2 separate regions of the Homo sapiens genome follow, and region 2 is reported to be linked to region 1. The links are microRNA targets in miRTarBase. Many come from high-throughput screens and were not tested one by one. Region 1 holds a microRNA gene; the other region holds the end of a gene's coding sequence.
The links. Region 1 holds the annotated microRNA hsa-miR-211-5p (UUCCCUUUGUCAUCCUUCGCCU, at 2,608-2,629, shown strand). A microRNA usually pairs through its seed, bases 2 to 8, with sites in the 3' UTR of a target mRNA and lowers its output. Matches are read on the target gene's strand: a 7mer-m8 pairs with bases 2 to 8, a 7mer-A1 pairs with bases 2 to 7 and ends in A, and an 8mer does both.

Region 2: miRTarBase lists ANKRD45 as a target of hsa-miR-211-5p. The part of its 3' UTR that is shown has no 7-base or 8-base seed match.

What each region holds. Positions count from the first base shown.
Region 1 is chr15:31,063,539-31,067,723 of GRCh38, reverse strand. It overlaps MIR211 (microRNA 211), which reads left to right and starts at 2,583; the gene lies at 2,583-2,692. It overlaps TRPM1 (transient receptor potential cation channel subfamily M member 1), which reads left to right. Exons shown (of 28, transcript NM_001252024.2): 6 at 537-661; 7 at 1,477-1,648.
Region 2 is chr1:173,606,405-173,610,404 of GRCh38, forward strand. It overlaps ANKRD45 (ankyrin repeat domain 45), which reads right to left. Exons shown (of 6, transcript NM_198493.3): 6 at 1,932-3,811. The coding sequence ends at 3,741. Among named protein-coding and RNA genes, the nearest start is that of SLC9C2, 5.3 kb to the left of the region's middle.

The DNA.
Region 1 (4,185 bases):
TTTACTTTGATATGACTCTTAAAAAAAAACAGCAAATATAGTAATGATTGTCATAATGGTCAACATCTCTGGGTCACCCATGACATGCAATATTCCTTGAACTGAGCCCTGTACAAGCATCATCTTCATTAGACCTCTCGACAATCCTTTTCCTGTTATAGGACAGGAAACTGAGGCACAAAGACATTAAGGAACATACCAGGCAGTATGGCTCTCAATTTTCACTGAAGGCAGCCAAGGAATGCCAAAAAGACTCCAGTTATTTCCAGCTTTAGGCCTTAGACATCTGTAAAGGAAATCCCTACACAGTTGCTTTGGTTTCTGTTTTTGTTTTCCCGTTTCTAGAGTTAATGCAAGATTGCTCGTTATCATGAGCTCAGACTTTCAGTGTACTTTGTTTTAATGATAAAGATGAGTGTGTCTCACCCCTGATCTGTAGGGAATGTAGGGACTCAGGGCAAGTGTCCCTAAATTTCATGAATGATGGTGTGCTGGGAAGTAAAAGAGCCTAAAATATGACCAATGGCTGCTCACAGGTGTTATCAGCCACGTAGGGGATGCCTTGAAAGACCACTCCTCCAAGTCCAGAGGCCGGGTTTGTGCTATAGGAATTGCTCCATGGGGCATCGTGGAGAATAAGGAAGACCTGGTTGGAAAGGATGTAAGTGTTTTCTCTGCAAATGTTGGCAGTTTTTTAAAATTAATGATTGATTTTGAGGTAACCGTTGATTCAGATGCAGTTGTAAGAATAATAAGAGAGCTCCCTTGCAGCCTTTCCCATTCCTCCAATGGTAACATCTTGCAAAACCATAATGCAAGATCACAACCCGGATACTGTCATTGATAAGGTCAAGGTGCAGAATGTTTCCATCAACACGAGGATCCCTCCTGTTGCCCTTTCATATACATATACCTCACTCCTTCCTACCCCCACCTCTTCCTTAACCCCTGGAAACAACTAATCTGCACCACCCCGCATTTCAAGAAGGTTCTGTAAATGGAATCATACAGTAATGTAACCTTTGGGGATTGGCTTTTTTTTCACTCCACATAGTTCTCTGAACACGCGTCCAGGTTGCCATATGTATTGGTCTTCATTCCTTTTTACTGCTGGCTGACATCCCATGATATGGAGGCACCAGTTTCTTTAACCATTTGTCTGTTGAGGAACAGTTTGGCTGTTACAAGTAAAGTAGCCATAAACATTCCAGTGCAGGATTTGAGGTTAACATAGGTTTTCATTTCTCTGTGATAAATGCCAGGGGTGCAATTGCTAGGTTGTCATTATCTAAAACAATTAACTTTCTTTCTATTTTAATGTAACAATTGGCAAAAATAAAACCTTCAAAAGGCAGGGTAGAGATGTGAGAATAAGTTTTAGTGCAGTCACTCCACACATATGTATTGTGCTTGCTTCCCTTGTTGGTCTTAACATCCAAGTCCTGCAGGTCTGATTTGCGCTGTGCACTTTGTCAGGTAACAAGAGTGTACCAGACCATGTCCAACCCTCTAAGTAAGCTCTCTGTGCTCAACAACTCCCACACCCACTTCATCCTGGCTGACAATGGCACCCTGGGCAAGTATGGCGCCGAGGTGAAGCTGCGAAGGCTGCTGGAAAAGCACATCTCCCTGCAGAAGATCAACACAAGTAAGTGCTGGCAAAGGCACGCAGTCCTCCTGGGCTGATGCCATCACAGTGGAAACAAGGCTGAGAAGGAGATTGATTGCCCAAGGGGATTAGAAGATTAACCTTGCTTCTTGTTAGGTCAACAGAAAATGACTCACCTAGATGTCTTACCTTAGCCACCTACCAAATCACATTCACTGGGCTACATGGGGATGCTTTGCCCCAGGTTCACAAGTTAGCACGAAATAACCCTCAGTGCTCGCCATGGTGATGGCCTTGCCCACCCTGTTGCCCAGTGGTTCTTGTTCCCTGTAATTAGTTGTTATTTTTTAAGTGTTTTAACAGGAAAACAATTTCTCAAAGATTTAGTAGGATTCTTTCTATTTGCTGATAAGTATTATGTGATTATTAAATATCTCTGTAATGCTGGGCCTTTCATGTAGACTAAGATGGCCAGGTGGGGACATATCTGGAGAGGGCTGCAGGAGCCATCTGCTCCTGAAGGGGCATCATCCTTGCTGGTCCTGAGGGGGAGCTGTCACTGTCAGACGAAAGCTGAGGTCGAACTAGAGAGAAAGACGCAAACCTCAACCAGAAGAAACAATGATAACAACTGGTTAGAATTACAATAACTGGTATAATCTCTTGGAGCATGTTTATACTCCAGTAATTCTTAACGTCAAACAATTGTTAAATGATCTGAAAGAGCAGTTTGTTTTTCCCATTACTGGCAAGATTTTTGTGGGAGACCATCTAGTCCTGGCGAATGGTCATTGGGAATCATCATGTATGGGACTGTGATGCTGCAGAGTGGGTAGAATGGGGATGGCCTACTAGGAAAAGTTGTAGATTTCCGAGAATCAGATCTCGAAGAATACATTGGTCGATGACTGAATGTTTTTTGTTCTCACATCTCTAATTTTTCTGGACTTGTAAGTTTTTACAACACCCCATTTCACCTGGCCATGTGACTTGTGGGCTTCCCTTTGTCATCCTTCGCCTAGGGCTCTGAGCAGGGCAGGGACAGCAAAGGGGTGCTCAGTTGTCACTTCCCACAGCACGGAGCTTCGAGGACTCCAGCCTAAGCCAAGAAGAACCTGTTCTACTCTGTTGCTCGAAAAGAAGGTGATTTGGCCACCATATTCCTAAAGATTGAAAATATCAATCCTTGCTTGGGTTGGAAATCTCAAAGGCGGAGTCCAGGATATCTTAGTTCATTTTTCCAATATCTCCTGGTCAGGGCTTTGCACAAAGCAGACCCTCAATGCATGTCTGCTGAAATGAACTTAGCTGTAATTACTCTGGTGGACACAGCAGAGTTATTCAACATATGTAAGAGTCCCTGACTGTAGAAACACCTCATGGAAGCAAATTAGAAACTCTGAAATGGCTCATTTGAAATTCTCCAATCTTCTCTTAACCAATGCTGGCAGATTTTTATCTGAAGCCCTTCAGAGCTGAGACCAACGATACTTCCACTTGCCTTTAGTTAATATCGATCAACTAATTCCCATCACAACTAATGGACAGCTGGTGAAATAGGCTCAGAGTGTGATCTGTCATGGCCAGTGTGGCATAAAATTAGGAAGTAGGCAAATGTGCCTCCACTCCCATTTCCTTCCCATTCCAGAATCCCAACTTCCTGGAATCTTCCTGCCACCTCTTGCTTCCCAGAGCCATGCCTGCAGGTTCTGCCACCAAAAGTTAGTTGGTACCCACTGTGTTCTTGAAGAGTCCTATTAACTGATAGAGACAGAGGGAGGACTCTGGGAACAGGTCATTAACTGATGGGCCACTAGTGGTCCAAGTGGCTGCGTCCAAGATCTGCACTTTATTCCAGCCACTGAAGACAGAAACGTCAACAAGAACAGTGTACCTCATTTGTATGCTACTTAACGTTTACAAAATTATTTGCTAGCCAAACACATATTCTGATATTTTTACAACTGCAGGAGTTAAAGGAAGCACTGTGATTGTTCACCTTTTACAAATGGCTGTCTAAGGCTCTTGGTGATTTGGTGATTGGCCCAGTGTCATAAGGGAGAAGCCAGGAATTGAACTGCAATTTCCCTGGCTGGTCCAGATCCCCTTTCATCATCTTATTCTTCAGGGACAGCCATCAGGGTGGGAATTTCAGACCATAGGCTAGGACAGCCAGGGGGATATTTTTCCAGCCAGGAATACCTTCCAATATTTCTCAGTGGTCACCTTGAAGTAGCCCCAACATCAGGTGGGTGGGTTATTCAGGAGTTTAACCATATGTGAGTCAGAAAGTTTCAGACTTTGAGGTCCTGGTTTTCCCAATGAGGCCATAATATGTGACAGAATGCAAGAATGATAACTGGGCTGGGCACAGTGGCTTACACCTGTAATCCTAGCACTTTGGGAGGCCAAGGCAGGTGGATCACTTGAGCCCAGGTGTTTGAGACCAGCCTGGGCAACATGGCAAGACTTCATCTCTACCAAAAATTAGCCAGGTGTGGTGGCATGTGCCCATAGTCCCAGCTACTCAGGAGGCTGAGGTGGGAGGATTGCCTGAGCTGAGAGGGAGGTTGAGG
Region 2 (4,000 bases), not on the chromosome of region 1:
AAGAACAGAGACACATCTCTCTACGTGAGGAATGTCATGACCATATTGTAAGAAGAGCATGTGGGAAGGGAGATGTGGCCATCCTGGAAAATACAATCTACCACATATTAGATTGAACATGGGGGCAAGTGTCAGTCCTTTACAATCTGGGGGCATCATGTTAATCTAAATAGCAATCTACTTAGTCCAGAGCAGTAGTTCTCAAAGGCTGGACCACAGGCCAGTTCTGATTCATGACAAAAGTTCCATCATATATGACAAAATAAGAAAAATAAATACAACATAAAGGTCTATAATAAAACTTAATTTATTTAACTTAAAGGGTAGAGCCCTACACTGAGATCTCTTCCCTTTTCTGGTGTTAAAATGTCTTTTGTTAAATGATAGTGATAGTAGATAGTAGTTGTTTTATTAATGATGTCCTATCAATCTCCTCCCCTTTTTTTACATTTTTTCTGTTCAATTAAATACAGAAGTCTAAAGAACTACTGCCTAAAAGTTATCATAACATTGAATTTAGCCTTTGATTGACTACTTCCCAAATAATGTGGAGGCTTCATTGATTTATTAGTATGCACTTTGAATAGTAATTACTTTGTGGATGTTCAGAAAAAGCCATGCAGCTACCTATGTAACAGCTCAAACTCAAAGCCTACGGGCATTTAAAGTTGCCTATGAATAGATCTATAATTCAATGTAACAATATGTAACAAGAGATACTATAACTCTCAAAATGGACTAAAATTGTAAATCTATAGATATAAATAAATGTTCAGATTCTCACATCAAAGGAATCTTTGACATGAGATCCAGGAATCTGTTGTAATCACTTGGTTCACATGCCAGAAAGTAAAATGACATTCAATGTGAAGGCTTAGAAAATAGAAGGTCAGAGGAGAAATTAGGCGTAGAGATGTTGGATGTATGTGTGGCTTATCTGCTAGAGGAGTAGGAGTTAAAATGGGGCAAGATATGGAGATAAGTGTTGGGAGTCATTTTTATAAAGGTGCACAAGCTCTATAAATTAATGAAGAGGTAATGAGTTCTATGTATAAGGTATTACTAAAAGATAATTCATTCAGTTATTTACTAACTTACTGTTTTATGGACTTTTTAGGTATAAAAAAAGAACAAAACAAAATCCCTACCCTCAAAAAGCTTACAATTCACACAGAAGGACAAACCTGTGAACAATTAAGTAGAATACAGTATGAGGCTATTAGCACTATGGGTGCCCTAAAGAGGGAAAGACTCATTCTTCATAATACTGGTGACAGGGAAGGTCATGGAATAGAGAATTACAGATTGCTTTACCAAAGGTTAGGATTGAATTTTGAGAAATTCTCACAACTGGGGGCAAGAGGAAGAAGAGGAACTGGTGAAGGAGTTAGAAAAGCAGTTTTAAGAGAGTAGAGGAATCATAATTGACATAAAAGTACCAACACAAGGAGTTTAAAAATAGCATCAGCAAATATATCAAAAGCTATAAAAAGTTTGAGGATAAGGATTGAAAGATTAATAAAGAGGGAAAATAGGTTTATTTTATACTAAGGGGTCTCCAGAAATGCCTTGGTCTAATTTAGAAATCTTTGAAGTAAGAATCCAGGAATCCCTCCCTAATCTGGAACACACTCCTGGAAAATAATGTTGTATTCAAAATCCAAGCTCAGAAAATGTAGCGTTAGAGTAGAAAGGACAAAAATGGCACCTGGACTTTTCCTAAATTATTGCAGTCCTTAAGGACACCGGTCTTCGCACAATATACTGTATTAAGAAAATGGGCTAGGCATAGTGGTTCACAGCTGTAATCCCAGGACTTTGGGAGGCCAAGTCAGGAGGAATGCTAGAGGCCAGGAACTCAAAGACCAGCCTGGGAAACGTAGCAAGACTCTATCTCTGCAAATTTTTATTTGTTTTTATTATTATTTTTTGAGATGGAGTCTCACTCTGTCACCCAGGCTGGAATGCAGTGGTGCGATCTCGGCTCACTGCAACCTCCACCTCCCGGGCTCAGGTGATTCTCCTGCCTCAGCCTCCCAAGTCACTGGGATTACAGGCACGTGCCACCACATACAGCTAAATTTTTGTATTTTTAGTAGAGACAGGGTTTCACCATGTTGGCCAGGCTTGTCTCAAACCGCTGACCTCAGGTGATCCGCCTGCCTTGGCCTCCCAAAGTTCTTGGATTACAGGTGTGAGCCAGCACCCAGCCTGCAAATGTTTATTTTTTCAATTACCCAAGCATGGTGGGAGGATCACTTGAGTGCAGGAGTTACAGGTTACAGTGAGCTATGATCATGATAACTCCACTGCATTCCAGCCTGGGCAGGAGAGGCAGACCCTGTCAAGAAGGTTGCGGGGGTGGAGAGAGAGAGAGAGATAAGAGAGGAAGAAGAAGGAGTTGGAGAGGGAAGAGGAGGAGGAGAGAGAAGAGGAGGGGGAGGGGAGGGGAGAGGAAGGGAGGGGAGGGGAGAGGAAGGGAGGGGAGGGGAGAGGAAGGGAGAGGAAGGGAGGGGAAGGGAGGGGAAGGGAGGGGAAGGGAGAGGAAGGGAGAGGAAGGAGAAGGGGAAGGGAAGGGAAAAGGGAGAAGGGAGAAGGAGGGTAAAAAAAAAAAAGGAGCAAACACAGGTCTTCTTTGTACTGCTCCATAAACACCCACTGGGTCGGCCAAAAAGGTGGCTGAAAGTTATTGCAGTGTTCTTTTGCTTTAAAAAATTGAAACTGAATTGCTCATACATTAAAAGGATAAAAAACTAAAAACTTTGGGAGACATTTAAAACAGGGTTATCTCAAAACCATGGTTAAATAAATGTCAACTGACAAAGTATTACTGAATTACCCATTCCTTTTCCTTCTCCCCATAAGGGAAAACTAGCTTTCAGAACAGGACAAAGAAGAGAAAGCCATAAGAACGAACAATAAGTGCTTTTTAAAAACCATCTTCTTTTCTATAAAACTTTTCCATAAAGTCACAACGTAAGAGAAGGTTGAGGCGCCTGATTAAATAAATTAGAAAAAAGGCTTTCCAAACCACCAATATGAAACCAACTATCGTACTTAAAACCTAGGAAATATAAAACAGAATGGGAGGGGAAATGGTCTTCAGTCCAGTTACAATATCTGTATTGCCAGCCTTACAGAATAGGAGAACTCTTCTAAGTATAAAACTATACAGATTTGTGTTTATTAATTTACAGATAGAAGGAGGTCAAAGATAAAGAGGGGTTTTACTCAGAGGTATACCCCACCTCACAGGTGAAATTTAATTTTGGACATAAAAAGTGATAGTTGTACCCAGAGGCTCCTAATCCAAGCTGGTCTTAATATTTCCTTGCTCCAAGTGTCATTCCATAAGATTTCCTTTTTAGGCAGGGAGAACAAATTTTTTCTCTGGAAATAGCCAAATATGTCCTTTTATATGGAATGCCTCAATTACACAGAAAATTATTAGATTCTCTGAGTAGTTCTTAAAGCCTCCACATGGTCTTCACGAATGATTTATACCCAAGTGCTTTCCTGAAGGAGCACGTGAAACTCACATGGGGCTGTGCTTGGAGGAGCAGAGGCGAGGCCAGAGTCCGGACATAAGCATGCTGAACAGGTCAAACAAAACAAGGGCGATGTAATGTTGTACTTAAATACTTAAAGAAACCCACATCTGTTTTCTCGATTTCAAATGGCATGAATAGGTTTGCCTTTCAGATACTAAAAGAAAATGTGGCCTTTTACAGAACGTATGTTCAGTTGGAGGTATCATCTTGACTTCTCTTCTGGTCATGGCTTGTTACAGATTTGGCACTTTTCACTTGACCTGAAAGGAAACAGATTTTAAAATTACATTTAATTAGTTTGCAATATGAAACAAAATGAAGCCAGTTTTTAAGACAATAAGAATGGAATAAATTAGATTGTCCCAGGCTGAACCAGCTACTAATTCAACCCTAGTGTTGTTGGTATGTCATTCAAATAGTCTCTCCTGTTCACTATATTTAAAGCTGTG